Regions from separate parts of the Homo sapiens genome. Here region 2 is linked to region 1. The links come from fine-mapping of genetic effects on gene expression. A gene starts in region 1. The other region holds a variant in brackets. All regions are shown on one strand. Distances are between the middles of the regions.

The links. PIP is the estimated chance that this variant, and not a neighbour inherited with it, causes the effect.
Region 2: its variant is fine-mapped to the expression of TRMT6 in whole blood (TOPMed, PIP above 0.99).

The regions. Positions count from the first base shown.
Region 1 is chr20:5,942,565-5,958,388 of GRCh38, reverse strand. TRMT6 (tRNA methyltransferase 6 non-catalytic subunit) reads left to right here and starts at 7,856. Exons shown (of 11, transcript NM_015939.5): 1 at 7,856-8,111; 2 at 11,856-11,983; 3 at 13,475-13,584; 4 at 14,136-14,227; 5 at 14,358-14,441; 6 at 14,706-14,830; 7 at 15,603-15,824. The coding sequence starts at 7,984. MCM8 (minichromosome maintenance 8 homologous recombination repair factor) reads right to left here and starts at 7,737. Exons shown (of 19, transcript NM_032485.6): 1 at 7,366-7,737; 2 at 6,226-6,378; 3 at 5,861-5,965; 4 at 3,699-3,781; 5 at 3,138-3,287; 6 at 1,160-1,263. The coding sequence starts at 6,373. RefSeq lists an enhancer at 7,721-7,860.
Region 2 is chr20:5,877,029-5,892,852 of GRCh38, reverse strand. It overlaps the pseudogene RNU1-55P. Among named protein-coding and RNA genes, the nearest start is that of CHGB, 27 kb to the left of the region's middle. RefSeq lists silencers at 342-552, 15,504-15,704. The variant A/G (reference allele first, on the strand shown) is at 6,809.

The sequences.
Region 1 (15,824 bases):
CTTGTTGTGTTTTGTTTTCTTGAGATGGAGTCTCGCTCTGTTGCCAGGCTGGAGTGCAGGGGTGCCATCTTGGCTCACTGCAACCACTGCCTCCCGGGTTCAAGTGATTCTCCTGCCTCAGTCTCCCGAGTAGCTGGGACTACAGGTGTGTGCCACCACACCCAGCTAATTTTTGTATTTTTAGTAGAGACAGGGTTTCACCATGTTGGCCAGGATGGTCTCGATCGCTTGACCTCGTGATCCGCCTGCCTCGGACTCCCAGTGCTGGGATTACAGGCATGAGCCACCGTGCCCAGCCAAACCATTCTTAACAAGAAACAACACTAAATCTTCCTTTTTCTTCTTGTCTCACAGGCTGTTCTCAAGGAAAAAAGAAAAAAGAAATTTAAGGAAAAAAATAATGCCAAAAGGAAAATCTACAGATTCAAAAACCTTTGGGTTTCTAAGTTCTTTTTAAAGAACTGCTAGGAAATTTTCTTCTATAAATTCTGGAAAAGAAAAACAAAATGCTGATGATTACCTTATAATGAATTCTTCTAATGAATTTAAAATCTTAAAGATGAATTCAAGAAAAACAAAATAATTTCATTATTCCCTTGTATCTAACAAAAACCTAATAATTTAACAAAGAACACTTAGTGTATTACAGACTGAGTATATCCCTTATCCAAAATGCCTGGGACCAGAAGTATTTTGGAATTTTTGGACTTCCAAATATTTGCAATATTACTAGTTGAGTATCTCTAATTCAAAAATCTGAAGTGCTCCAATGAACATTTCCTTTCAGTGTCGTGTCAGGGCTCAAAGTTTTGAATTTTGGAGCATTTCAGATTTCAGATTTTCAGATTAGGGATACTCAACCCATACATGGATTATTAAACTTACACAGCAGGGTCTTGATAAGTTCACATCCAAAACCAATGTTTACAAAAATCTGCAGGTTAGGAAATCAACATTTTCTTCCTTATTTAGGAAGTATCTGTCATGATGTCTTTGAATAATTTTCAATGAGTTTATTTCAGTGTGATGATCAATGAGATGGCAAGGAACTCATGTCCTTTTTACTGATTTCCTCATTTTTATAAAATGAGCGTTTTCATTCTTAAATGGCCTTCAATGTCCCATTCTAAGTAATACTTTAATACATCAAATTCCTCACCTTGCATGAATATGTGGCACATTTACCATTGTTTCTCCATCATTAGACAATCCTTCCTGGGCTTGTAACTCAGCTGCATGCCTTTCAAGGTCCTTAGTTAACACCTAAACAGGACAGACATTTACTCTGAAGTTGGAAAACAAAACATCCTCTTTATACAGAACTCTATTTTTATAGAGAATATAAAGTTTATGGACAGAAACAGAATAAAAACAGAAAACTTTAACAGCCCTTTAAATATCTAATATTTAATTATGACTACTTACTTTATAGTGGATGTTTTACATTGGATTTTGCTGTCCCTGTGCTGAAAAACTCCAGCATCCCAGTCTGCTACTTTCTGTCCCAACTAAACCTAACATTAAAAGCCCTTACATTAGTCCCCAAAACCATCACCTCTTGATACTAATTAAAAAAAAAAAAATGCATTCCTATTTCTCTATATTCACTGACCAATCAAGACACAGAAAATAAAAATGACCTTTAAAATACCTAATACTCACTCCCTTGGCATTTAACATTAAATAATATAAACACGCTGGGCGCAGTGGCTCACACCTGTTATCCCAGCACTTTGGGAGGCCAAAGTGGGTGGATCCCCTGAGGTCAGGAGTTTGAGACCAGCCCGACCAACATGGTGAAACCCCATCTCTACTAAAAATACAAAAATTAGCCAAGTGTGGCAGTGCATGCCTATAATCCCAGCTACTTGGGAGGCTGAGGCTGCAATGAGGCAAGATCACACCATTGCACTCCAGCCTGGGCAACAAGAGCAAAACTCCATTTCAAAATAAATAAATAAATAAACAACAAACAAACATTTAATACCACTTGTACACAGCAGTTTGCTGGCAACCTAAGAGGCAAAATAAGATGCATATATACAGCTGTAATTGTCATAAGGACCATAAAGATGTACAGACAAAATACCATGCAAGTTTCGAAAAGTGGTCATGAGAAAGGTTTTACAGACAGACAACTGAGCTAGGCCCAAATAATCTGTCCATGTGAAGGGAAGGGGATTCTATGTTGAATGGACAGCACAGGCAAGAGGTAGAAGAATGCCCCTCTGAATGCCCCAGCACTTTGTGTATGCCTGTCCTGAGATTTGCTATTCATTACCTTGAAGCATGTATCTGTTTGCTAGCCTAAAAAATGTTTTTGGCCGGGCAAGGTGGCTCATGCCTGTAATCCTAGCACTTTAGGAAGCCAAGGCAGGCGGATCACAAGATCAAGAGATCAAGACCATCCTGGCCAACATCGTGAAACCCCGTCTCTACTAAAACTCCAAAACTTAGCTGGGCATGGTGGTGCACCCAGCCACTCGGGAGGCTGAGGCAAGAGAATCACTTGAACCCGGGAGGCAGAGGTTGCAGTGAGCGGAGATCATGACACTGCACTCCAGCCTGGCAACAAAGTGAAACTCCATCTCAAAAAAATAAATAAAAAATAAATTTAAAAAATTTAAAAAGTTAAAAATGTTTTCATATATGTTGTATTACCTGACCCTGAAAAAAAACTCAGGCAAGCACAGTACAAACTGTTATTTACATTTGATATACAGGGACACTCAGTGGTTTGCTTCATGCCACAGAACCTAAATCTAAGGTTGCTCTTTTTTGCTCTAAGTTCATAACCGATAACACCATGATTCCTTGTTTTATCTTCCCTATGAGATTGTATAACTTCTTGAAAGCAAAGTTTAATTTCTGCACAATCTTTAGCAAGATTAAGCAAATCCAAATAAGTTGGAGGTAAATATTTCATTTAGATAAGCTGTTGTATATAGAATGAATGGTATCTTTCAGAACGGAACTGCAACCTCTCAGTTCTAGCCAACATCTTTTCGTAAAAGCTAAGTATCTCTTATAGAAAGTACAGTCACTGTAAAATCTTCCTTTAAACTTAGACAAGGTGTGCATGTGTGTGCAAACATTAAAAAAGTTTAGACAAAAGTATGCATAAGACAAATAGTTACCTGATGTATTGCCAAACCCATGCAAGCCAAGGTTTTCTCAGGTGCATCTCTTAGTTCAGTTGCTATATCTGGTATCAAGTTAGTTACTTCACCACCTTCTGTCAGTTCTTTAAAATCTACCAAAATACTTCCCTTTCTTTCTATTTCATCCTATAAAATATAAAAGTATGAAAACAATAATTGCTTTTCTGTAGTCAATTACCATTAACTGAGCATTCTATTATAGACTTTGAGAAAGCATACAATGTTTATATGTGATAATGGTAAGTATGACATAAGTATAAGCTTTGTGCCAAGCATGGTTCTGATATTTTAAATATATTAATGTATTACTGCCTCTTAACAATCCTTTGAGGTAGGTATTTATACCTCTATCTCCAAATGAAAGAAAACTGAGGCACAGAGAAGTAATTAATCAAAGTCCATACTGCAGGTAAGTGGCAGAACTGAGGTCTGAACCAAGGAAGTCTGACTCCAGTGCCTACGATCATAATCACAAGTACCTCGAATACATTGGTAAGATGGCACATGACTGGTAGCTTTGCTGTAGAGGAATCTTACCTTGTCATACAAATCAATATGCCTTGTGAAAAATTTTTCAAATGCTTGAATCTTCTCAATCAAAGGAGAGCTATCGCTGTAAACTAATCCAACAAATATGGCATTAGCACAAATAATCACACAGGTACATGCACATTTTTCATGAGACAAAAGCAGCACTATATACATGGTAGATGATTTTTTTCTAATTGCTTTGTATTTTGATTACATTCATATAAGAACTAGTATAGAATGTAAACTTAAGATTCTAAAACAAATTTAGGTTTGCATAATGTGAAATGCAGACAGAAACTCTCTCTCTCTAAAAGCCCCACTATCTGGGAAACTTTGTTTTGCATCTTTGACACCTAATAGGACATGTTAGTTCAGATAATTTAGACAATAAGCTTAAACTAAAAATTATAATAAAGCCAAAGCCAGACACATAAACTAAGCTCTTACTCTGACAGAGCTGAAGACAATCACAATCACAGTCTTTCCTGAGATCAGGAGACAGACCAACACTTGACCCTGGTGGCAAAACTGAAAAGCCTTTTTTTTTTTAACACTCTAAAGTTCTACATTTTCAAATATGTCTCTCACAGAAGAACAGTACAATAAAGTAGTTTGGAAGCACAGATGGTGAAGGCTAAGGCACCTCTTGAACTCCATCTTTAGGACTGTCCAAAGATCACTTATAGTGTTCTGAGCTATCTGCTAGGGGAGCAATGGGAGTGCTGGTGGCTAATACATCCTAAAGGAACAAAAGATCATTCATGAAACAGATTCTATTGATGGAAAAAAACGAACAGATTTCCAATAAAGAAAACATTTGTAAAGTACTCTATTCATTCACAAAATGACTACTGCATGCCTGGTATGGGGCAGGGAGGGTCCTGGACCTCAAACGTCTAGTTTTCCTAAAAAAAAAAAGTATGCGGCTGGGTGCGGTGGCTCACGTCTGGAATCCTAGCACTTTGGGAGGCCGAGGCGGGCGGATAACGAGGTCAGGAGATCAAGACCATCCTAGCTAACACGGTGAAACCCCGTCTCTACTAAAAACAGAAAAAATTAGCCGGGCGTGGTGGCGGGTGCCTGTAGTCCCAGCTACTCGGGAGGCTGAGGCAGGAGAATGGCGTGAACCTGGGAGGCAGAGCTTGCAGTGAGCCAAGATCGCGCCACTGCACTTCAGCCTGGGCAACAGAGCAAGACTCCATCTCAAAAAAAAATAAAAAGTATGCACACACACACACACACACACACACACACACACCCCTCATGAGACATAAGAAACAAATGGGTATTTTAACAGCACAAAAAAGACAGTTCCCTGCACCTATACAGACTGATGTAGGTTAATTGGTATTCCTAATTATCAAAGGGAGATTCCTTACCTGTGTTTCTACACAAAGCTGTATTTGTTATTGTCCCTTGATTTCAGGCCCACTGTTCTACTTCCTGCTCTGCGATGCTATAATTCAGATCTGTACCCTACATGTCTCAGATTCTCTTTAAATTCTGCCAATTGAAGGCACTTTAGAGACGGGAAGGTGGCAGGAAGAGAAAGGAATTTATTCTTGTTTCCAACTCTTTTCAGCATCTCTGCAGCTGCAGAAGATAACGATAGTGCTAGCCTCCAGTTCCAAGCACCACTGAGTCATGCCCCCTCAGTTACCAGTGGCAACCAGCTTCATTTGCCTTAGTGGTCTAAGCACAGCTCTGTAAGGTAGCCTTCAGAAGTCCAAGCATAGCTTTGTAGGGTGCCCCTCAAAAGTCAAAATAACAGCTATGCTGTGACCTCTCCAACCTTTGAATTCCCACATTCTGGTAACCTCAGAACTTCTTTTAGTCTCTTAGCCATAAGGATGGTTGCTGCTTCCTGAATTACTACTTTCTGGGGAGTTACCTCAATATTTCCTTTCTGCTCTTTCAGTCTTCCATTTTTGTATCCAATTTCTTGTATTAAGTCCCCTTTTTGAAATACCTAGTATGGTTTCTGCTTTCCTGACTGATATAAAGTCTAAAATGCTTTTGAAACATAAACATCATTTAATTGTTTGGGTGAACTAAGATTAAAGCAGGTATATGTTAGTAAATGAATTACAGTAATACAAGATGTAGCATCCAAAGACAAGTTAAGAAAATATGATTTATGGTGCTTTTTTGTACTTTTTAAACCCTACCTTCAGAGAAATAAAGCTTCCAGCCTTTATATGGTATGAATCGATCCAATGTTGACTGCATTGACTGTGGGGTCTTTGTTGAAAGCAAAAACTGTGGGGTTTGTTCTGAAAAAAATAAAATACTAGGTTAGTAGAAACAGAGTGAACATTTTTCCAATATGCTTCTCTTTCCAAATGAGACTCTCATTAATAGAGTATCCAAATTAGGGGTTTTAGTAAAAATCTGGGACATCAATGTTCAAATACTTACTAAGGAGTAGCATGAAATAAAAGACAAACTGAAGTATGAGATAAACCGCCTTGTATGATAGACGTGAATTGCTTCCTTAAGTGAAAAAAATTGAACAATCATTGACCTCACCTACCAGAAGTACGTTTTCCTGTGGTTTTACTCAGATCAGGTCTGTGTTCTCTTTCTCTCCATTTTCCTGAGAAGTTCCCACCACCTCTTCCCCTTTTCCAGCTTTGAAATCTTCCTCGTCCAAATCCTCTGCCTCTATACTCTCCATTCATCTCTCCTAAAAGATAGATATTAAAAAGGTCTTCACCAAAACTGTAAGGAAAATAGTGCTCTTAAAAATGTATTAATAAAAAGGGAAAAATTAATGTATTCTAGGTTCAAGAGTAGCAAACAGGCTTGCAAAGTTGTACAGCTATGATACAAGACCCAAATATTCTGCAGTTAAGTTTCTAATCTCTATCGCTTTTTAAGGTATACCATAATAGTTTAATAACTATTAAATATGGTTTACGTATACTAGACGCTCACAGGTTAAAAATAAGGACAGGTACTGTACCTGTTTACAAGTCCCCATTACAGAAATGAAAATAGGACAGGTAATTAACTCTATGAAAACTTATTTGCAGTATTTGAGACTTCTTATTATAGGGCAGGACAGGATGAACATAATTCTGGCCTGTGAGACACTAGGGATACATCATCATAGCTTCTTACATACAGTCAATCCTGCAGTGTCACATCCATTTTTTGTGCAGTTTTTCTGTAAATCCAAAACTGTTCTTATAAAATACACGTCTACTTAAAAATGATTCATATCCTAAGTATACAAGTAAATAAAGATATACCTGTACGCTGCAGTGCAATTCATTATCAAATACTCTACCCAAATCCTTACTTAAAAGGGGTTTAGTTAATAAAACAAGATAGTAACTAGAAAGTTCACGATTTAACGGCATGACAGGGCTCCAATAATTAGGCATTACACATTATGAAACTGATGCTCAAAGAAATTAAGCAAACCGATCAAGATCAAAGTTGTTTGTCGACAGTACAGAGATAAAACTTTCAGCCTCCCAAGCTGAGGCGCTCCTTCAACAACGCTGCGTGCCATACCCTTCTCAAACGAGACAATATGCTGAGAACAGTAACAAATTCAAAAAAACGTTAAGAAGTAGGACTGGAGAAAGAGTAAAAAGAAACAGTTGGGTACCTGTGCTTCTTCAAATACTACTTTATTTACATCTCCTAAGGCTAAAGTTCTTACTTGCTTGGGACAGAGGTCCCAAAGCTCTCCTAGTTCACAACTGGGCCGGCTCCAGGATACGCGCAGATCTGTCCGGCCGGATTCTCCCTCCCTCCCTCCCGTAGAGAAGCACCACGGGGCTAAGAGTCTCCGGGATCTTAGCTCCTCAGGCGACTCCTGCCAAGTCCGCAGTTCTCTTCAGCCGCAGCTTTCCTGTCGTCCCCGCGCGGTGCTGAACCCCATCTGTCTCAACGGCTCGGGAAACTCAGTTTCCCCACCGCAGCTTCCAGAAGGTGTCTGTAGCGCACAGCGCCGCAAAAATGCCTCAAGCGAAAATCAGGTCTTCCCCTAAATTCTTTTTTGGCGCTTCAGTGATCCAACTTCCGCTCAAAGAAGCGGCAAGACGAGAGGGGCGGGGCGGAGTGCAGCCAATCAAGGAGTTTGGCCAGACGGAAGCCGAGAGGCTTCCGGAAGCGGTCTTGAGGTCTGGGCCGGAAAGCGGAAGCGGCGTGCAACACGTGGGGGCGGTGCCGGTCGGAGGGCTCCTAGTGCGCCAGGTTGTGGGAAGTGAGGCTGGCGGTGGCGACAACCGAGGAGGAGGGGCGGGACGCCGTGGAGCACGGCGACCGGCTGAGCGTCATGGAGGGCTCAGGGGAGCAGCCGGGCCCACAACCACAGCATCCCGGAGACCACCGCATCCGCGACGGCGACTTCGTGGTGCTGAAACGTGAAGATGTGTTTAAAGCAGTACAAGTCCAGCGGAGAAAGTAAGTCAGATCGCTGATTTTAGGGGTCTCCCGCCCCCACCTTGTAGATACCCCCTCCCTCCAGGTTTCTCCACAGAATTCTTCCGCCAGGGTGCCATTCTTGGCTCTCTCGGTCCCCATTCCCCGCCCTCGTTGTCTCCTCGGGTCTTTCTGTCACAGAAGGCTTTTCCACCAGGATCCCGTCTTCGAACCTCATAATCTCCCTTAACCCTCCTGTTTTTCCCGGAGCCCCCTCCATGATTTCATATCTGGCCGTCCACCTTCAGCATCCTTTTCAGTCTTTCCACAGAGTTCCTTCCCCAGAATTCCATTCTTGGCCCTAGGGTGCCAATGCCTCCCTCTCCACACCCTAATCACCTGTCCTGAAGTTCTTTCCCTAGGACCTTGGGATCTTCACTGTCTTTCCAGAGACACCCCCTCCTTTCTTCACTTTAGGATCTCATCCTTGTCTCCAGAGTCTCCTTCAGGTTCCCCCTTTTTTTCCACCATAGATCCTCCTTCTTCCCTAATCCCCCAGTCAGGATCTATCCCACAAAAAATGAAACGTCTCCTACCTAGTCTGGCTTTCTATCCTCTTCTCTACCCAAGCAGGATACACAGAATAGATGAAGGAGACAATTCACCACAGAGTGTGGAATCACTTTGAGTTTCCCTCGTTTTACTCACCAAAGGATTCAACGCTGGGAAAATTGCTAAAAAGCAATTTGCTCAAGGCCTCAGAACTCCAAATTAGGTTTGGTTTGTGCACCTGCTGGCTAGTATCGCTCTGTTTTATAGAAGTAAAGAAGTGGGATTTTGATAACTTTCTGGAAGGGCTGGTGAGGTTGTTAAGTCCTAAGAGCTTATTAATGGTGAAAATTTATTGGGATATTTGGATTAATTTATCTGAGAAATACAACCACAGTGTTTTTGTTTTTGAGACGGAGTCTTGCTTTGTCACCCAGGCTTTAGGGCAGTAGTGCAATCTCGGCTCATTGCAGCCTCTGCCTCCGAGGTTCAAGCGATTCTCCTGCCTCAGCCTCCCTAGTGGCTGGGACTCTGGCACCATCACACTCGGCTAATCTTTTTTTTTTTTTTTTGTATTTTTAGTAGAGACGGGGTTTCACCATGTTGGCCAGGCTGATCTCGAACTCCTGACCTCAGGTGATCCACCCGCCTCGGCCTCCCAAAGTGCTGGGATTACAGGTGTGAGCCACCGCACCTGGCCACAGTTTCTTTTGAGCTAGGTTATTGTATTACTTTTGACAGAGATAAGTTGAATGCAATGTCAGGAGAACAGCTTTCTGCAGACTGGGAAGTATGAGATTTGGAATTTCTGATAAGTACTTACTTCAGATGAATTCTTTTACTCCTGGTTTAAGCAAACTGTTGACTGGTATTTAAGGTGAAGCAAGCATCATAAAATAGTCAAGAAACAAGTCTCCAGAGCACTAAGCTGGTGATAACCAAGCTTTTTGCACAAGCACTAATTTAGTAAAGATAAAAAGTTTCTTTTATGAGGGGTATGTTTCTTTTAGTCCGGAAATGTAATACCTGCACCAACCTTTAACCATTTTTAAATTCTTCTTTTTTTTCTTTTTTAAACTAATTAATTTTTTTTGCAGAGACAGAGTTTCACTATGTTGTCTAGGCTAGTCTCCAATTCCTGGGCTCAAGTAATTCCGGCCACCTCAGCCTCCCAAAGTGCTGGGATTACAGGCATGAACAGTAGTTGACCTTCCCCTTTTGTGGTGCCAAAAGGGTTGGAGACCACTGCCCTAAACATTTATTTGGAAATACTTTTCAACAGGCCCTCTTCTTCGCAGAAGTCATAGTGGCAGTTTCCATTTTATTTAGGAAATGACTCTCTCAGCTCAGCTGCATCCCAGGTCAGACTCCCTCATCACCCTTGGGGCTACACTCATCTGATTGGGCAAAAAACAGTCCAGGCTCTCTGAGAAGTAGACTCTGCAAATCCTACTCCTTCCCAGTAAAGATGTGGCCTCCTTATCCCTCTAACGGGGCCCCACATTCCCGACTGGGGCAGTGACCTGTCAAACCAGCCAGTTTTAAGTGACACGCATCATCCCCTCTGCATATCACATAGGCTCTCAGAGAGGTAAACCCACCCATCTCAGATCCAGTGTTTTTGTTTGGTTTGTCTGTTTGTTTGTTTTGTGAGACGGGATCTCACTCGGTCCCCCAGGCTAGAGTGTAGTGGCGTGAACTTGGCTCACTGCAACCACTGCCTCTTGGGCTCAAGCAATCTTCCACCTCAGCCTCCTCAGTAACTAATTTGTGTACTTTTTGTAGAGAAACTCCTGAATTCAAGTGACCCTCCTGCTTCAGCCTCCCAAGTAGCTGGGACTACAGGTGTGTGCCACTACACCTGGCTAATTTTTTTATTTTTTGTAGAGACGGAGTTTTTCCCCGTCAGCCAGGCTGGTCTCAAACTCCTGGACTCAAGTGACCCACCTGGCCTCCCACAGTTCTGGGATTACAAGTGTGACCCACCACACCTGGCCAGATCCAGTGTTTCAAAGCACCTAGGTGATTAAAGGATGAGGATAGGGGGTGCACATCTGGGCTGAGCTGAATTGCAACATCTGAGGAGGTTTACATTAGCAAATATTTTGAGTGTCTGTTACATTCTGTTGTATGTAAGTATCTAGGGACCCAGCAAATAACAAGAATTGGCCATATCTGAATCACTTACGATCATACAGGATTTCCCTCAGATGGTTTGAGTAAGCTTTAATGAAGATGTGACTCAAAAGTGTGGCCGATTTAGGGAACCAATAAAGGTGACACACCCAGAGACCAGCAATGGTGGTAAGCCTCTGACACGGGAGCGTGGGTGATGTGGCAGTATATTCTGTCGTAATCAGCTTCCTGGTGGCACAGAGAAAGGAAGAGAAGGAGTGGGATGGGGCACAATCAGAATTAACCACCACATGATTCCCAGAATTCAGTGTTCTGTGCACATGGGCCATGTCCTGAAGCTAGGTGGGCTTTCTACCGTCCTTAGGTCTTTGCTGGAGTAGACCGTGTGGTATAGTGGAAAGAATGAGGCTTGGGGTCAGACACAGATTTGAATTTGAATCCCAGCTCCAACAACACCTTGCAACTGTGAATCTTGGACAAGATACTTCTCCCTGGGCCTCGGATTGCTCTTCTGGAAAGAGCTATGTCCCAGGATTACCGTGAGAATTAAATCAAAAAGTGTGAATCACACCTCGCACACACTGCCTAGCCCCTGGTTGGCACTCAGCAGATGTTAGTTTTCTTTTGAGAAGAAAGCATTGTGTTCCTGTGGGATTTCTCTTTTAAATTGCAATAAGATAAAAAATCTATGTCATAGGAAACCTCAAGTTGCCTGGTCCTCAGTAGAGCATTGTCAGTGTTAGGCTCCATTTCCAAGTGTGTAGATTGTCAGTGTTTATTTGCAAGTATAATTTGCTTTTATTAGATAATTTTCAAATAAAATGGCCGATCAGACCAAGCCCAAGAAATTTGTTAAATCCTTGTTACTTCGATGAGTCTTTGCTTCCCCTTTCCAAAATTCAGTGTTCTTGTGGCTTATTCATTAATTTTACGTCTCTATCCCAACCAGGTTCTCTCTAGTTCCTTTGTTGCTTTATGTTCAGAGATAATGCTGCTGATCATCCATTGTGGAGACCACTTTTGAAATAAACTGTAGTGAACATGTCTTTTCTGTACTGGATAGAAAAGATATTCAGTTAATTGATTACTTTTTTTCCCTAGAAAAGTAACTTTCGAAAAACAGTGGTTCTACCTGGATAACGTCATTGGCCATAGTTATGGAACTGCATTTGAAGTGACCAGTGGAGGAAGTCTACAGCCCAAGAAGAAGAGGGAAGAGCCTACTGCAGGTGCACATTTTGGATGCGTGAAATAGATGCTCTCCAACTGACTAGTCAGAAACATCTCAGCCTCCACCTAATTCCCAAGTGCTAGGCCATGCTATCCCAAAAGAAATCTTAACTCATAATCTAAGAACTGCAGCTCAGTGGAGTGAAGCAAGTACTGCCTTTGGCCATGAGATAACCTGGATTCTGGCTCCAGCCCACCATTAAATGGTTCTCTGTTCTTGGGCCAGGCATTTAATCCTATGAGTCGTTGCTGCGTCATTGCAAGAACATAATGTAAAGTTCTTTCAGTGCCCAGAAGTTATGTAACAGCTGTGAGGTGGTTAGCATATGGTGTAGAGGTTAAGAGGTCTGGTTTTGGATCCAGCTAAGTTCAATTTCTACCTTCATCACTTGCCTTGTACCGTTGGGCAACTTATTTGATTTCTGTGAGTCTTATATCCTTATATATGTAAAATAGGGTCATAAACACATTTAATGCCTAGGTTGTATTGAGTGTTCTATGATATGACTCATAGGAAGTTCTGAATAGTGTCTTGCTTTTAGTAAGGGCCCATAATTTTAGCTATTACTATTATTATTTCTTAACAACCTCTTGTCCAAAAGCTGTTATTGTTAATTAAAATTATATTTATTAAAATGAACATTGAGAGTATCTTATTAATTAAAACACAAGTAATTATTTGAAGTTAAATACTGTTAAAGTTTTGAGTCAAACCTGTTATTTAGATACATTTAAATTAATATCCATATTTTTACTAAGCACCAAATATATGCCAGGTATAATTTGGCGCTGCAATTATAGCAGTTCATAAGATAGACTGTCGTATAAAATGTGCTTACCAGTTGGAACACCAAAAATAATCAAGTAGACAAGCAAACAGCATGATTTCTGATGGTGAAGTGACACATGCTATGAAGATAATAAAGCAGGGGCGTGTACTAATTTGGTAAAGCAAGAGAATGAGCTCAGCCTCAAGTGATAGAAAGGATCCAGCCACTCAGACATCTGTCGTAGAACCTTCCAGGCAGAGGAAGCAGCAGGTGCCAAAAGCCTGCTGTGGGACCTTGCTGGGTGTGTTCAAGGAACAGAAAGAAGGCCATTGTGGCTGAAGCTAAAGTGTCAAGAGATCAGGCCAGGAATGATAGGCAGGGGCCAGATCATTTATGACCTTGCAGGTCATCTTTGGAGTGTATTCTTATTGCTATGGGAAGCCACTGTATGGTTTTAAGCATGGGGTAGATGAGTCAAATTGCATTTAAACAAAGAGCACTCTGGCATCCAGGTGGATAGTAGGGGGGCAAGACTGGGAGCAGGAAGATGACTTAGAGGCTTGGAGTAGTTTTGGCAGGAAAGGATAGTGTGATGGGGGCAGTGCAGCTGGGAGGCCAGACTTGAGTGGCTGATGGACTGGATGTGGATATGAACTCAGAAAAAGAAAGTGTCAAATAATTTCAGACCATAAATGTCAATAGAGCAATTTCTTTCCTTAGAGACTAAAGAAGCGGGCACTGATAATCGAAATATAGTTGATGATGGGAAATCTCAGAAACTTACTCAAGATGACATAAAAGCTTTGAAGGACAAGGGCATTAAAGGAGAGGTAATATTCAAAGGATTTTTAGTTTTGTTTTTGTCTGTTTGGCATTTAGGAAACTGTTGGGTTTTTAAAGCAGACTGTACCTAAGGTAAAACAAAAAAATAACGTTATAGCTTTGATAGAAATAGGTTGAAATGTACATGTTACTCAACATTTCAAAGATTTTATGTCTTATATACAGGAATATAAGTGAATGACATTACTAATGTCAGTGGTAGAGAATGTAATAACAGTGCATATCAGGATTTAACTTTGTTCATTTTCAGTAATGTTTTCAGCCAGTGTCTTCAGAAATTAGTTTCCTTTACCTCTCTTCTCCTTTTGTTGGATATCTCTGTTCTTTTACGTTGGTTTAAGTGGAGTTATAAAGTACTTGTATTTTATTATAAATTCCAAATAGAGTATAGAAATATAAAGTTCATCTATTTGGACTTCTGTGGAAAAGGGATTGGAGAATCAGACCATTGGATCCATTCTTGGGTAAGAAGCCTTTGGAAATTACTTGTTTTGTGAAAGTAAAGTTTCAGAAAATCTACTTGCTCCTTTTCTTATAGGAAATAGTTCAGCAGTTAATTGAAAATAGTACAACATTCCGAGACAAGACAGAATTTGCCCAAGATAAATATATTAAAAAGAAGAAAAAAAAGTAAGTAGTTTTTATTTTAAAAGGCCCACAATATTAAACTTCTTATATGTTTATAAAATATACATTTTATTACAAATAAAATATTTTAAGTCATTTTTTTAAATCAGCGTTCTGTTTTTTCTTCCCCCAGATATGAAGCCATCATTACTGTTGTGAAGCCATCCACCCGTATTCTTTCAATTATGTATTATGCAAGAGAACCTGGAAAAATTAAGTACGCTTTGTTTCCTTTCAAAAGTATAATTGGGGGAAATATGTCTTTAAGAAAGTCATGATTTTAAGTAAAATGAAAAAGCTTGCTCACCTGCATAAAGTATCCTCCTACCTCATAAATTGTAAGTCCTTTTACTGTCACCTCCAAAGCAATCAATAATCTTATCAACACAATTTTAATAAAGCAAACAAAACTTGAAAAATGATGATTAAAATAATAGGCTTTACTTAGCTAAAAATGAACAAATTATTGTTTTTACTTTAGCCACATGAGATACGATACACTAGCCCAGATGTTGACGTTGGGAAATATCCGTGCTGGCAACAAAATGATTGTGATGGAAACGTGTGCAGGCTTGGTGCTGGGTGCAATGATGGAACGAATGGGAGGTAAGATTTAATATTTCCATTTTCAACAAAACCCCACCCTGATGTGAGTAAAGGTGGTCCAAAAATGTAAACTCATGGAAAGCCAAATTGAATTACTTCAGGGTTAACAAAGTGACTTGGGTGAACCTGCACGGCTCCTAGCATGGGGACCTTCTTACACAGTCTCCATCACCCAGCCCCCCACCCATGGGTACCCCCAAACCCATGGCAATTGTCCTTTCTAGCTTCACTGTCAGTGGGCATGATGCTGGAGCCTGTGGCTGGCTAGGGCTTTCGGGACAGTGATTTTAGTAAACTCCTGGGTAGCTGGTGCTCATTTCATTGGGCCTAAATTGAAGGGATTGAGTGGGAAGATTACTAAGCATGTATTCTCTCTGGAAGAATACAACACAGCCTGATTTGTCTGGTTTTTTTCTGACCCCATAGAAGGTAAGAACTTGTAACTGCTCCATTTGAGGATCGGAGTGAGGGGAAGCAGAGTCCGTCACCAATCATGTGACATCCAAATTTGCAGACACAGGGTTTTACAATAGTATCAAGTGGGGATAAGCTTCTTTGAGTCTTCCTGCTATCTGCTTTAGAATTATATTACCTCCATTGGTAATACTCATAGACTCCAAACAGACTCCCTGAGGAGCTGCACCATCCTTCAGCCTCTGAATAAAGTACTAATAGAAAGACCTTCAGTCTCATTACTGTGGAGGACTCACTGAGGGTTTACGTAGTCTAGAGTCACTCCACGGGCAGATGTTTGTTTCTTTTATCTGTTCAGGTTTTGGCTCCATTATTCAGCTATACCCTGGAGGAGGACCTGTTCGGGCAGCAACAGCATGTTTTGGATTTCCCAAATCTTTTCTCAGTGGTCTTTATGAATTCCCTCTCAACAAAGTGGACAGTCTTCTACATGGAACATTTTCTGCCAAGATGTTATCTTCAGAGCCAAAAGACAGTGCTTTGGTTGAAGAAAGTAATGGCACACTGGAGGAAAAACAGG
Region 2 (15,824 bases), 66 kb after region 1:
TGTGTATCCTTGAAGCTTAAATGATTAAGGGAAAAGGGTAAGCCGAGACGGACCAGGTAGAAGGGAAGTTTGGGTGGTCAGAGCAACAGGCCAGGAAAGAGGGAGTCCCCACTGATGACGTGATGAGTAGTGTGGCCATGAGAAAATTCCTTCCCAGCATTTCTGGACAATTTATATACTCTTCTACATCCCAAATTCTGAGACAAATCAGTTGAGAAAATGGAAAAAATGTATTGCAATTCTGCGAGAATTAAAGCTTAACAATCAGCAGAGGCCCCAGTGGTTTGAGAGATTCATCGAGGGATCCACTGAAGGCAAGATCAACTGACATAGCAGTTGAAGGTTGAGGTCAACGTTTCTGAGAGCAAGGCAGGGAGCACATGTAGAGAAGGTGCCATGGGCTGATCAGTCTGCCTTGCTTATAACTGATACCATGTTACAAGCATGTGTTCCTGGCCCTGTCTGCTGCTAACTGGGAGGCGTTTTTGCAAATAAAATAAATATTAAGAACTTTACACTTTTTAGGTCAGGTGCAGTGGCTCACACCTGTATTCCAAGCACTTTGGGAGGCTGAGGCAGGTGGATCACCTGAGGCCAGGAGTTTGAGACCAGCCTGGCCAACATGGTGAAACGCTGTCTCTACTAAAAGTATAAAAATTAGCTGGGCATGATGGCGGGTGCCTGTAGTCCCAGCTACTCAGGAGGCTGAGGCAGGAGAATCACTTGAACACAGGAGGCAGAGGTTGCAGTGAGCCGAGATTGTGCCACTGCACTCCAGCCTGGGTGACAGAAAGAGACTCCATCTCAAAAAAACAAAGAGAAAGTTTTAAAAATAAAATTGAAAAAAGAACTTTGCACTTTTTATAGCATACTTTACACAGACCCTAAGAGTGATGTTCCAAGAAATAACAACTTTTGGAAGCAAAAAAATCTATAAATTGATGATTTTGAATTGCGATTTCTATGTAATGCTGTTAACTTTGCTGGGCTAGATTTGATTCAAAAACTACTTAGTAATGTTTGCTAGCCTTTGACAAGGTTTGGATATTTGCAATAGGTTATAGTTCTTTGTAAATACTACTAGACAGAATATTTCTTATTTATTAAAATAAGTTAAATCTAGGCAGGCACGGTGGCTCATGCCTGTAATCTCAGCACTTTGGGAGGGCGAGGCAGGTGGATCACTGGAGGCCAGGACTTTCAGACCAGACTGGTCAACATGGTGAAACCCTGTCTCTACTAAAAATACAAAAATTAGCCGAGCGTGGTAGGGGGCACCTGTAATCCTAGCTACTCGGGAGGCTGAGGCACAAGACTTGCTTGAACCCAGGAGGCGGAGGTTGCAGTGAGCCGAGATGGTGCCACCGCACTCCAGGCTGGGCTAGAGAGCCAGACTCAGTCTCAAAACAAACAAACAAACAAAAAATGTTAAATCCAGAATAATGAGTAAATAACTTCCGATTTCTCATTTCCAAGTTCTAGGTATTAGTATTAATATTTATTGAGAATTTGAAAACACTACAAAAAATGAGAATATAAAAAGGTGAGTAAGAGTCTGTTTTGAAACTTTGCCTCAGGCCAATCTTGTTCCTGGAGGAAAAATAATGGTCTCCAGGAGGCATGGGTTTCTACCAGGAAGCGAAGTTATTGAGTAAATGTCACAGGCTAAAGAAGCCACAGGGATTTGCTCTTGTTTGTCTATCTCCCGTGTTCTCAATTTCATCTAGAAACATCACTTGACTTTTATCTTGGCTGACAAATCAGCTCATGTACCTAAGGAAGCTTAACTGAACGTGGCAACCCGAGCTGCTGTTTTGGTCATGGAATCAGATGTCTTTTACTATTCTGAGGCCCAAAGAGCCCAGGGTGAAATAGCAGCATCTGCGGCTTCCCATGTGTCAACTGCGTGTTTTCCAGCCCAGACCAGTTCCGGTGGAACAAGATGTGATCAACCATATCAGGTTCTCTAAGTGCAGTGATCGCTCTTCTGAGAAGAAACTATTCTTTATCACCATTGTGATGAATTGTGACACAAGTGTCTCTGCATCTGATGCCCTCTCATCCCGGGATGCTGGCAAGCAAAGACAGAGCAGGAATGAAATTTATCAGGCACGTGTTTAACTTCTCACTTCGACCCAAATCAAAATGGAAGCCTCCTTCGTTGCTTATCAAAGCCCATAAACCAACAATATTGAGGTGTTTGCTAGCAAGGACAAAGTTGGAAAACAGCTCATGCCTCTTATACTTTAAGGAGTATAATAGACAATGATTGGCCTCTGTTCTACTCCCTTTTTTAAAAAAGTGGGAGAGCTGGGCGCGGTGGCTCATGCCTGCAATCCCAGCACTTTGGGAGGCCGAGGTGGGTGGATCACGAGGTCAGGAGATCGAGACCATCCTGGCTAACACGGTGAAACCCCTTCTCTACTAAAAAAAAAAAAAAAACAAAATAATTAGTCGGGCATGGTGGCGGCTGCCTGTAGTCTCAGCTACTCGGGAGGCTGAGGCAGGAGAATGGCGTGAACCCGGGAGGCGGAGCTTGCAGTGAGCCGAGGTTGCACCACTGAACTCCAGCCTGGGTGATAGAGTGAGACTCCGTCTCAAAAAAAACAAAAAACAAACAACAACAACAACAACAAAAACAGGGGATAGTGAGAACATAGTTCCCACTGCCACAAATTATGCAGTTGCGTTTCCCACATTTGGGGAAATCACAGGATCAGCACCTCTGGAGTGCAGTGGAACCTCACCCTGGGAAAACCACCTTCATGATCATGGTATCTCCCCTGCCAGGTAAGGATCTGTTCCACTCACGTTTTATGTGTGTGGCCAGTGGAGGGAAAAATTAAAATTAGATTTGCTTTCTAGTCTAAAAGGACCACTCATTTTGATATAACAAGCATGTGTTGATTGTTATATCATCTATATAATTAGATATAGATGTGCATGCAAAGTTTAGATCCCGTAGATGTGGATGATGTACATGGAGTGGATGACGTCGATGTAGTTGACATAGATATTGTAGATGCTGTAGAGGTAGCTGTCGACTACGTAGATGCCAATGTAGAGTAGATGGTGTAGATATATACACAGATTTAGATAGAGTAGATGCAAATATAGATGCAGATGTGCATGGCATAGCTGTAAATATGGATGCAGATGAGGTAGGTGATGTAGATTAGAGTTTCTTAACCTCAACACTATTGATATTTTAGGCCGGATATATCTTTGTTGTCAAGGACTGTCCTGTGCATTGCAGGATTTAGCAGTATCCCTGGGATTTAGCAGCATCTCTGGCCTAGATGCTGAGGGCATTTCTTCCCCCAACCCTGAGTTGTAACAATAAGAAGTCTTTCTGGAAGTTGCCAAATGTCCCTGGGCAAAGTTTCTCCAGTTGAGAACCACTGGTACAGAAGGTGTAGATAAAAATGTTGATGTAGATAATGATGTAATATAAGCATAGGTATAGGTGATGTAGATAGTAAAGATGAAAATGTAGCTGTAGATGATAAAGCTGTGAACACAGATGTAGGCAGAGTATGTGTAAATATAGAGGCAAATGATGTTATAAGATACAGCCTATAGATAAATGATATAGCTGTAAACATTGACATAGATGACATATTTGATATAAATAAGGCAGATGTTATAAACTTTATGATCTGGGCAGAAAACTATATGTGCTGATAATGCAGATGGCATTTCTTTGACCCCCTTTTGTTTTGTCTTGTTTTGTTTTGTTTTGAGATGGAGTCTCGCTCTGCTCCCAGGCTGGAGTGCAATGGCGAGATCTCGGCTCACTGCAACCTCTGCCTCCTGGGTTCAAGCGATTCTCCTGCCTCAGCCTCCCGAGTAGCCAGACCAGCCGGGCTAATTTTTGTATTTTTAGTAGAGATGGGGTTTCATCATGTTGGCCAGGCTGGTCGGTCTGGAGTGAGCCACTGCACCCAGCCTGACCCCACTTTTGGAAAAATTTCCAGACGGTGGATAAGCAGCGTCCTGTTAGGAATAGTTTAAGCACGGTATAGCCTGGAGACTGAGAGACTGCCCAGGTGACCTATTAAGGTTCTTTTTGATGTAACCACCTGATCCTGAGATATCACAATTTCTATTAAAGGCTGATACTCAGGGTGAAAAAGAAAAAAAAATGAATGATGAAAACCAGCAAGACATGAGACTCAAAGATATCCCTTCATTAATATAAGATCACATGGGAAACCTCAGATGGTCTTTCTATTCCTTCAGTAAATCTTAGTAGGATATTCGCACACCAGACAAAACTAAGCAAGTGTTTCTGCTTTCCCCACAATCCCAGCCTCTCACAGACATCCCCAAGTTGCCAACTCACAACTAGCTGACCCACAGTTTAAGCAAATTCTATCCATAGTCCCGAAGGAACCCGACCTATGTCCCAGAGAAGAGAAACATTCTATTCTCCCAAGGTCATGGTTCTCTACCAATCCCAGACTCAACACATTTAGCAAATTGTAAACCTCTCCAAATCATTTTTCAGGACCTGCTGAAAGTGCATTGGCTGTGAACTGTGGCATTTCCAAATATCCAGGACATTTGCTGAATAGAAGGAAATGAGAGTTAGTCAATTAGTCAGCATTTATTCAGTTATGCCAGGGCTGTGGTCAGGGTCTGTGGGCTGCTGATGAGTTTTCTGGCAGGGTTGAAAGAAGATTAAACCTGAGTGACTCTGCAACACGGGTAGAGAGTTATTGAGCAGTAAATAGTGAAATAAACCACCTGTACCAATTAGGAATCTGGTGGAGGATGTGCACCTCCTGATTGATTCTGGGAAGAATTTTTTTTTTTTTTTTGAGACGGAGTTTGTTGCCCAGGCTGGAGTGCGATGGTGCGATATTGGCTCACCACAACCTCTGCCTCCCGGGTTCAAGTGATTCTCCTGCCTCAGCCTCCTGAGTAGCTGGGATTACAGGCATGCACCACCAAGCCAGGCTAATTTTGTGTTTTTAGTAGAGACAGGGTTTCTCCATGTTGGTCAGGCTCGTCTTGAACTCCCGACCTCAGGTGATTCGCCTGCCTTGGCCTCCCAAAGTGCTGGGATTACAGGCGTGAGCTACCACGCCCGGATGATTCTGGGAAGATTTATGCTGGGCTTTGAATGAATGATGAACAGGAAGTTTGTCCACAAGTCTGGAGGATGAGAGTGGACACAGTACAGCAGATGTTTTGGGTGCCCTGCCCATGCCCCCTCGGGCCTTAGCATTTTGTGCCACAGCACCTGACTTTCAACTGCCAGCATCTGCCTCTTTGCCCGAGGGCTTTGTCTGGTGGCCAGAGCTTGCTTTGCCCATTCACACAGCAAGCTGGAAGCACTTGGAAATTAGTGCCCTCCCAGTTTCAGCCTTCAATCAAAGATGGATGGGGACTGGTGTTTAAATACCCTAGCTGCCTTACTCCTTTTGCAGGATAACTTTGAAGCTTACAATCTGCACTGGCTCCAGTAGGCTTAAGTTCCAGATGCCCACAGTGGTAACTTGCTTGATAATGTACCTTTTACTGCTTCTTTCCCTCTCCTGTCTCAGTTCCTTGCTTTCCCACTCAAATAAACTACTTGCACTTGAATTTGTGCCGGAGAGTCTATTTCTGGGGGGAGCCTAAGACACACAGGCCGTGAATAGATTCTCTGAAGGTCCTTCTGGCTCCTTATTTTCTATCTTGATATCCATTAAGGCAAACAGAAAGCAGAGAAGGCAGGATCTGCCAAACTTTCTTACCTCAGCCCAGAAAATTCAAGGGCATCTTTTCCTGGCAACGAAGAAACTCTGTGCCTTTGGGAGCAGCTGCCACAGCGTCAGCTCTGGCCTCATGTTACTTAACCACAGACATCAACACCTCCCCTTATGGAATTTGAGAGGCATCAGAAATACACTGAAAGAACAATGGCAGAATCCTGGCTGTCACCTCAACACATCTCTCATGTTCCAGTTCATCTCTGTCCCAGTCTGATACGTGGCAGCATGACATACTTTAAAGTGCACGTCTAATCACTAATGGAACCCTTGGAGAAGAAGTTTCCATGCTCCTGGAAGCTAACTGCACACTAAGCATCTGAGCAAAAGTCAAGTGGACACATTGATCTTTGGTTTTCCCCCAGACATTGGGCCAGAAGGAGGCAATCAGTGAACTAGCGAGACAGAAGAAGAAATTCTTTCCCCTTCAGTGAGGTTAAAGCCTTTGCAAACTCAGCACTTAGAACAGTGCTTTTTGTGGGGGGTGTAACTCATTTGAGGAGTGATAGGAAATGCCTCCATGTTTTGTAGAAATAAAGTAACTGCCAGGCACAGTGGCTCATGCCTCTAATCCTAGAATTTTGGGAGGCCAAGGTAGGAGAATTGCTTGAGCCCAGGAGTTCAAGACCAGGCTGGGCAACATTGCAAGAGCTCGTCTCTACAAGAAATTAAAAAATAAAAAACTAGCCAAGCATAATGGCTCATGCGTGCAGTCCCAGGTACTCAGGAGGCTGAGGCTAGAGGATTGCTTGTTCCCAGGAGGTCAGAGGCTGCAGTGAGACATGATAATGCCACTGCACTCCAGCCTGGGTGACAGAGTGAGACCCTGTCTCAAGAAAAGCAAAACGAAAACAAAACTGTTGGTGATGTCTATATGCTCACAGAAGTCCAAATGGGGAGGTGAAATAGTCATTTGCGGTTGTAGGGGTTACTTAGCATCCTAATGCCCTTCCCTCTGTGATGTGGTCATGAAGGCAGGCAGGATCTACTTCCCACTATAGAAAGGAGCGGAGCCAGATGCCCTTTTGCTGGTCCCTGGCCACTAGAGG[A/G]CAGTCATATTATCTAGTCTCAGCAAATCAAATGCTCCCACCCAGGATGAAGGGGTGGCCTGCCCCTCCACACCTGTGGGTATATCTTGTCAAGTGGGACGAGAGACTGAGAAAAGAAATAAGACACAAAGTATAGAGAAAGAACAGTGGGCCCAGGGGACCGGCGCTCAGCATACAGAGGACCAGCACCAGCACCGGTCTCTGAGTTCCCTCAGTTTTTATTGATTACTATTTTCACTATCTCAGCAAGAGGAATGCGGTAGGAGAGCAGGGTGATAATAGTGAGAAGATCAGCAAGAAAACATGTGAGCAAAGGAATCTGTATCACAAATAAGTTCAAGTGGAGGTACTATGCCTGGATGTGCATGTAAGCCAGATTTATGCTTTTCTCCACCCAAATATCTCAGTGGAGTAAAGAATAACAGAGCAGCGTTGCTGCCAACATGTCTCGCCTCCCGCCACAGGGCGGTTTTTCTCCTATCTCAGAATAGAATAAATGTACAATCGGGTTTTATACCGAGATATTCGGTTCCCAGGGGCAGGCAGGAGACGGTGGCCTTCCTCTTTCTCAACTGCAAGAGGCTTTCCTCTTTTACTAATCCTCCTCAGCACAGACCCTTCACGGGTGTCAGGCTGGGGGACAGTCAGGTCTTTCCCATCCCACAAGGCCATATTTCAGACCATCATATGGGGAGAAACCTTGGACAATACCCGGCTTTCCAGGGCAGAGGTCCCTGCGGCTTTCCGCAGTGCATTGTGCCTCTGGCTTATCGAGACTGGAGAATGGGGATGACTTTTACCAAGCATACTGCCTGTAAACATTTTGTTAACAAGACACATCCTGTACAGCCCTAGATCCCTCAAACCTTGATTCCATATAACACATGTTTCTCTGAGCTCAAGGTTGGGGCAAAGTTACAGATTAACAGCATCTCAGGGCAAAGCAATTGTTCAGGGTACAGGTCAAAATGGAGTTTCTTATGTCTTCCCTTTCTACATAGACACAGCAGCCGTCTGATCTCTCTTTCTTTTGCCTACACCAGGACTTTTAATTTAGACTCAGGGATAGTTTAGAATTTCAAGCAGCCGCAGCATCTGGCTCCTGTGTTCAGTTGTGTTGATGTCCAGCAGCCAGAGTGGCAGCAGAGCCACAGTTAGGGACATCCTACCCAGACTGCCCCTGAAGCATGGCCTAGGCTGTGTCCTTGCTGCCTGGCCTCCCTCAGAGCCTGCCTGATTTCAAAACCTGGTTACCCATCCTGTCAATTCTATTAGCCACCTACTATCCTTCTATTAAAGTCAGCCAGAATCCTCTTCTGTTATGTGCAACTGAGAACCCTGAGTGGCATAGAAATTGATATCCCATATACACAGAGCTTCCTCTGGAGGTCAGAGACCTGGGCCCTTGTCCAGGAGGCATCTAGATAGCTGTGGGGGCTTTTGTCTCCAACCCTTCGGGGGCTTGACTGCATAGTTGCTGAGATTATTTTTCTGTTCTATGATTTTTCTATGATTCTTCCTAAAATGTTGGCCAGTGAAGACCCAAAGCTACCTGAGCTCCTGTAGCCTTAGTGGTGACGAGTATGGAAAAAGATGTCATTGTGTGACAGCCACAGATGGGTCTGGTCCAAATCAAATCACTTGAGTATCTCAAGTCATATTCAGTTCCTCACTTTCCCACTATGCCCACTATATGTCTGCATAGGTCCCCGAAGAAATGAATGTACCTGGTAAACACTGCTTTGGTACATCAAGGGCAAGAACATCCATGGTTCATTTAACAACATGCACAGATATCTGCTCAATGAATGGGCCCATTGGAGACAAAGAGAACCAGAGGTGATAAGACAGTGAGAGTGACTGGCACTTTTTTAATACATGGTAATCTAAATAGTTCTGGTGCCCTGGCAAAAAGTCTGGGGAATGTAAATGTGCCTCTAATAGGCACAGATAATGGGCATTTTTAGGGGGAAGAAGTAATTGGTTTTTAAGCCACAGTCACACTGTGGCACAAAGCAAATGCATGGAAAAACTGCTTGAAGCAATATGGGTCAGGAAACCTTTTATAGTTAATGGTAAACCAATCTATTTGGAGAGTGGCTTAAAAGCAGCTTTTAAAGGAGAGAGAGACTACTATAGTTTGGCTTAAAAGGTATGTCAACCAAATGCAAAATCCTTGTTTGAATCCTGATTCAAACAAACCAACTGTAAGAAGGCATTTTTGAGACAACTGGGGAAAATTGAATATGGACTAAATAGTAGATGATGTTCAGGAATTATTGATTATTTTCTTGGGAGTATTATATTCTGGTTGTTTTTAAAAAGTACAAGGCTGGGCACCATGGCTGATGCCTATAATCCCAGCACTTTGGGAGGCCGAGGCGGGCAGATTGCTTGAGCTCATGGGTTCCAGACCAGCCTGGGCAACATGGTGAAATGCTTTCTCCACCAAAAATACAAAAAAATTAGCCGGGTGTGGTGGTGCATACCTATAGTCTCAGCTACTCGGGAGGCTGAGGTGGGAGGATCACTTGAGCCTGGGAGGCAGAGGCTACAGTGAGCCAAGATCACACCACTGCACTCCGGCCTGGGTGACAGAGCAACAACAACAAAAACATACTTATCCATTGGAGATACATGCTGAATTTGCAGCTGCAATAAAATAATGCCGTAGATTTTATTTTAAAATACTCTAGCGCATGCAGTACTACTCAAAGTCTGAGGATTGGGGCCAGTTTGCAAATTGTGTGCTCTTGGTCTGTAATAAGTGCAGAAATTGACAACAAATATTTAGAAATGGCTATAGTACTTTGACATTGCCATGGCATCCAAGTAGTGAGTGGTGGACTCTAATGAGAATAGAACTTAGTTTGGGTGTTGTCAAACCTGCATAGTGTGTTATGTGTGGCTTGGGTGTGAGCTGTGTGCTGGTATTGGTCCATGGCAGATCGGAAATTGAACAAAAGAGTCCTTAGCTTGAGGAGCAGTGTCTTGGCGCACACACACACACACACACACACACACACACACACACAGAGGGAGGTGGTGGTGGGATCTGCTGAAAAAGAATGGCAGAAAGCTGATGGCTGTTGAAGGTAGGTGATCAGTACATGGAGTTCATAATACAATTCTCTCTATTTTTGTGTATATTTGAAAATCTACATTATTTGGTATATTGAAAAGTTTTAAAAATCAGCCTGTTGATGGAGATATTTAAAAATATACATTTTAAATGCATATGTTTACATTGAAACATACTGTGTGTGTGTGTATTTCAAATAAAATAACATAGAAATGACACATAGAACACACAGCTCCCAGGGGTATTATACATAATGATTCAAGTAAAACTTTCTTATTTTACAAAAGAAGGCTTAGGTAAACAAACAATGCCATTTGCCAGATCATGAGCTTGGTGAGCTTTTATTATATAATAAACTCTAATTACATAATAAACTTTTTGAAGCTATGGATCTGGTGAGATACAACTTCTGTGTCTCCATAGCACTCCACCCATGATACTGCAGAATAAATAGTGCCTATTAAACAGTGGTTGATAAACAAACTCAGGAAATGAACTGTTATGGACAGCAGTTTAATTCTCCGTGCAATAACTCCACACTGCTCAATTAATTTGAAAATTAGTTTCCCGAATCCACCCTCTTAGAGATTTGTCACAGAACGTTTAAGCCTGAGGGGGACCGGGAGCTTTGTTAATGTCCTCATTTGCAGACACGGAAATGAAGTTCAGAGGAGGTAGATGAGCCTCACTGGACACCCTGCTCGTTAATGGAAGTGCTTTAGCCTCTCACGCCTGCAACTGGACTCTTCCTTCCACCATGATGTCTTTCAGAAGGTACGAACCCATCTCCGACACTGGCCCCTTGCTCTTGGTTTTAAAATTATAGTTTCAGTTGTAGGAAAGAGAAAGATGTTGTCAAGCTGACTCCACCAGGAAGCTGAAAAGGAAGTGTGAATACAGAAAAAAATTACGTCTTGGTTGCTATTTACCCAGCACTACTCTGTGCCTGGTATGGGTGGTATAAGCTCTCCAGCCTTCAAGAACTTTCTGCCTGTTCAAGGAAGGCAGATGTACACATGTTAACAGTTAAAGGACAGTCCTGCTGTGTAGCAGTTAAAGTGCAAATGAGTAGCTGGGTAGAGCCGTGGGAGCTAGAGAAGGAAAGGAATGTTTTGGCGGGTCCAGTCTCAGAAATGTGGAGAGGGCAGGACATCTGGGTTCGATCAGTGTGGACCTGTGGTGGGGCTTCCTTTTGTTGGCATTAAGGAGCTTTCTGTGGGGGATGAGATAGGATACCCTCGGTGATTTGGGAAAATCAACGTGGTAGCAACAGTGAATGGAAGAGGCTGAAAAGGGGAGAACTGGCAGCAGGGAAAACCTTCAGGAGGTCCTTAAGGAGATGAAAATGATGCAGGTGATGGTGTTGGGAAGAAAAAGACAAGGCAGGTGTAAGAGGTTGTGTGTGTGTGTGTGTGTGTGTGTGTGTGTGTGTGTGTGTTTGAGACAGGGTCTCACTCTGCCCCCCAGGCTGGAGTGCAATGGCACAATCATGGCTCACAGCAGCCTCTATCTCCCAGGTTCAGGTGATTCTCGTACCTCAGCCTCCCAAGTAGCTTGGACTACAGGCACACGCCTCTCAGCCCAGCTAATTTTTTGTATTTTTTTGTAGAGTCAGGGTTTTGCCATGTTGCCCAGGCTGGTCTCAAGATCCTGGGCTCAAGCGATCTGTGCACCTTGGCCTCCCAAAGTGCTTTCTGGCTGGGTGCGGTGGCTCACACCTATAATCCCAGCACTTTGGGAGGCTGAGGCGGGCAGATCATCTGAGGTCAGGAGTTCGAAACTAGCCTGATCAACATGGAGAAACCCCGTTACTACTTAAAATACAAAATTAGCCGGGCGTGGTGGCACATGCCTGTAATCCCAGCTACTTGGGAGGCTGAGGCAGGAGAATCGCTTGAACCTGGGAGGCGGAGGTTGCGGTGAGCTGAGATCAAGCCATTGCACTCCAGCCTGGGCAATAAGAGCAAAACTTCATCACAAACAAACAAATTTAAAAAAACCACTATATACTAGGTGCTGTTCTGAATACTATATAGATGTTCCTTGATTTAAGATGAGGTTATATCCCGATAAATCCATCATAAATTGAAAATATCTTAAGTTGCTTGATTTAGAATATTTTCAATTTATGATAGGTTTATGAAATTGTAATCCCATCAAAAGTTGAGGAGTGTACTGAATGATTTCATGCCATTGTAAAGATAAAAAACCTTAAGTTGAGCTATAAGTCAGGAACTGTCTGTAAAAATCTGAACTCATTTGTGCCTCCTGAACTAAGCACTATTGTTATTCCTGTTTTACAGTTGAGGAAGCTGAGGCACAGTCAGGTTAAATAACATGCCCAAGGACATACACTAATAAATGGCCAAGTCAAAATTCACACCCAGGCAGGCCGCCTCCTGTGTCTCAGCTCTTAACCACCACTTCTTGCTGTATACAGTGAGACATTTAGAAGTAAAAGTCATAATGAATCCACACTTCGTCAAGCCTGAGTGACAGCAAATGTTAGTGCCATGGATAGATTAGAGGCATCAAATGAGAATATTAACTTGTGGGAAAGAGGATACATTTGATTTTCTATACATTTTCTTTAAAGCGACAAGGACACATATGAGTAGAATGTTCCATGGGAAATTAGAGTTATATAGGATAGAAACTTGGTAAAGACTTGAAAATTGGCAGATGAATAATAGCTGGAGTTTTGAGGGAAGATAAATTCCAAAGAATGATGATATGGTTTGGCTGTGTCCCCACCCAAATCTCGTCTTGAATTGTAGCTCCCATAATTCCCACGTGCAGTGAGAGGGACCAGGTAGAGATAATTGAATCATGGGGTCAGTTTCCTCCTTACTGTTCTCACGGTAGTGAATAAGTCTCATGAGAGCTGATGGTTTTATAAATGGGAGTTCCCCTGCACAAGCTCTCTTACCTGTCACCACGTAAGATGTGACTTCGCTCCTCATTTTCTTTCTGCCATGAGTGTGAGGCCTCATCAGCCATGTGGAACTGTGAGTCAATTAAACCTCTTTTCTTTATAAATTACCCAGTCTCAAGTATGTCTTTATTAGCAGCTTGAGAACAGACTAATACAAATGGCAAGTGTGAAGTTGAAGACTATGGAATTGCTAGTTCTTGGCTATTTTGACCAACAAAAATAGCGGTTTCATACGGATCAAGCAGGGCTCAAGATTGTGCTTCAGGGAAAAATGAGAGGTCAAGGTCAGGAGGGAGAGGGACTGCTTGGGAGACAGACATTAAACAGGGATTGGGGAAGATTTAGATCACACCCTTTTACATTATTCATTTTTAAATTACATTTTTGTTTATTTTTGAATAGGCAAGACCGACATATAGCTGATAATTCAAAAAGAGATTTTTATCCACCAGCGTTACCACCTGCAGACAACAGAATCCACTGTAGGGGTGAAGGGAATTTTTCTTCCCCCTGCTTCTGAAGGTTCAATAATTTGGGTCTGTAAAACAAATGGACAATAGACAGATTAATAGGAGAAAAGGCATATAAATTTATTTACATGCAAATGCACAGAAGCCATACAAAATATGAGACTCAAAGAAGAGCCAGATGACTGAAGTTCTTATACCATATGGAAAGAAATAGGAGCTTGGGGCTCCTGGGGATAGGTGGTAACAGGTTATGGGAGGGTGAAGGGAAGAAAGGCAAGTCAAGCAAAGCCTGTCTTACTATGCAGATGAAATCTCTCAGACAGTAGTCCTGAGAACAAAATAGATGGCAGCCTGTGGTAAAGGTTTCTCTGTCAGACCTTTAAAAGTATCAGGCTGGGCATGGTGGCTCACACCTGTAATCCCACTGCTTTGGGAGGCTGAGGTGGGAGGATTGCTTGAGGCCAGAGGTTCAAGACTAGCCTGGGCAACATAGCAAGACTCCATCTCTAAAACAATTAAAAGAAAATTAGCTGGGTTTGGTGCCATGTGCCTATAATCCAAGCTACTCAGGAGGCTGAGTTGGAAGGATGGCTTGAGCCTAGGAGTTCAAGGTTGCAGGGAGCCATGGTCATGCCCCTGCACTCTAGCCTGGGTGAGAAAGTGAGACCCTAACTAACATAAATAAATAAACAAAGATAAAAGTGTCAGACCACCAGTCTCATTTTCCTGTGAGTTACTCTTTCCTAGATATGGATAAGAGAACCTCAGAGAAAGCCTGTGCCTGCATCTCCTGTTTGCTTTACTAATGTAGATAGATGTAAATTTCTTTTACAGGAGGGTAGCTTTTTCAGAGCTATTCCCATCTGCAGCTTTTCCAAATAACCAACTTGAAATATGCCAAAGAAGTATATTTTGGGGTGGCATATTTTGGTTTCCCACACCACTCTAGCTAATTTAAGGAACTGGGATTTGCTAGAAATGCATCAAAATGTTGAAAGGGCTACAGGAATAAGCTATAGGCTGGGATTATAGCAACAACTTTCCAGCTCACACCACAGAACTAGAATGGCAAGGGAAATGTGGCTGCCTCTGACTTCTGTACGAGGCTTCCTTCATCCTGGTCAGGAAACCACCCTCACCCTCACCAAGCCCTGAATCACACCACCTCTGCCACAGTCGAGAAGCTGTTGTTGCCACCCCTCCAGAAATATGCTATTTCCAATTGCCTCAGCTTCAACACAATGGATGCCCAAATGCCCTGCCTGTTTCTTCACAGGTCATCTCTCAGCCTCACACTTGTGTCTGGTTGGCAGAGCCAAGTCCTGTGTGTGTAGCACATTGACAGGGGAAGCTGGGAAAGGTGTTTCCCAAGGCTGGGAAATATCTAAATGTGGAAAGGTGTTCAAAAATATGTGAGCAGGCCGGGCATGGTGGCTCATGCCTGTAATCCCAGCACTTTGGGAGGCCAAGGCGGGCAGATCACCTGAGGTTGGGAGTTCAAGACCAGCCTGGCCAACATGGAGAAACCCCATCTCTACTAAAAAATACAAAAATTAGCTGGGTGTGATGGCGGGCACCTGTAATCCCAGCTACTCAGGAGGCTAAGGTAGGGAGAATTGCTTGAACCTGGGAGGTGGAGATTGCAGTGAGCTGAGATTGTGCCACTGCACTCCAGCCTGGGTGACAGAGCAAGACTTGGTCTCAAAAAAAAAAAAAAAAAAAGAAAGAAAGAAAAAGAAAAATATGTAGCAGATCCAAGTGATAGATGTTCATAAAGAAATATTATTGAAAAATATTCTCAGCAAGGCACAGTGGCTCACACCTGTAATCCCAGCACTTTGGGAGGCCGAGGTGGGCAAATTACCTGAGGTCAGAAGTTCGAGACCAGCCTGATCAACATGGAGAAAACCCATCTCTACTAAAAATACAAAATTAGCTGGGAGTGGCAGTGCAAGGCTGTAATCCCAGCTACTCGGGGGGGCTTAGGTAGGAGAATCGCTTGAACCTGGGAGGCAGAGGTTGTGGTGAGCCGAGATCACGCCATTGCACTCCAGCCCGGGCAACAAGACCAAAACTCTGCCTCAAAAAAAAAAAAAAAAAAGAAAAAGAAAGAAAAATATTCTCACCCTTTGTGGGAGATCATTTTAGAAATGGCTGCCAATGAATCATGCCTCCTTGTGTTACATGCCCGTGTGTAGTGCTTTCCCATAATGACTCTGAGTATGGCCATGTGACTTGCTTTGGCCAATGGGGCATGTGATGTAAGCAGAGGCTTGAAAAGTGCTTGTGTGGTGGGATATGCCCTCTAGGAACTCTACCTCCATGTAATGCCCCAGTCAACACCAGCCCTAACTACCAGAAATGCAAACAAGGCCATCTTGGAGCATTCAACACCAGGTGATATAGCAGATGACTGAAACTGCATGAGTGACCCCAACTGCTCAGATGAAACTGGCCCAACTTGTTGACCCTCAACATTTTAAAATTAACCTTTTTATTTTGAGATAAATGTAGACAAATGTGCAGTTG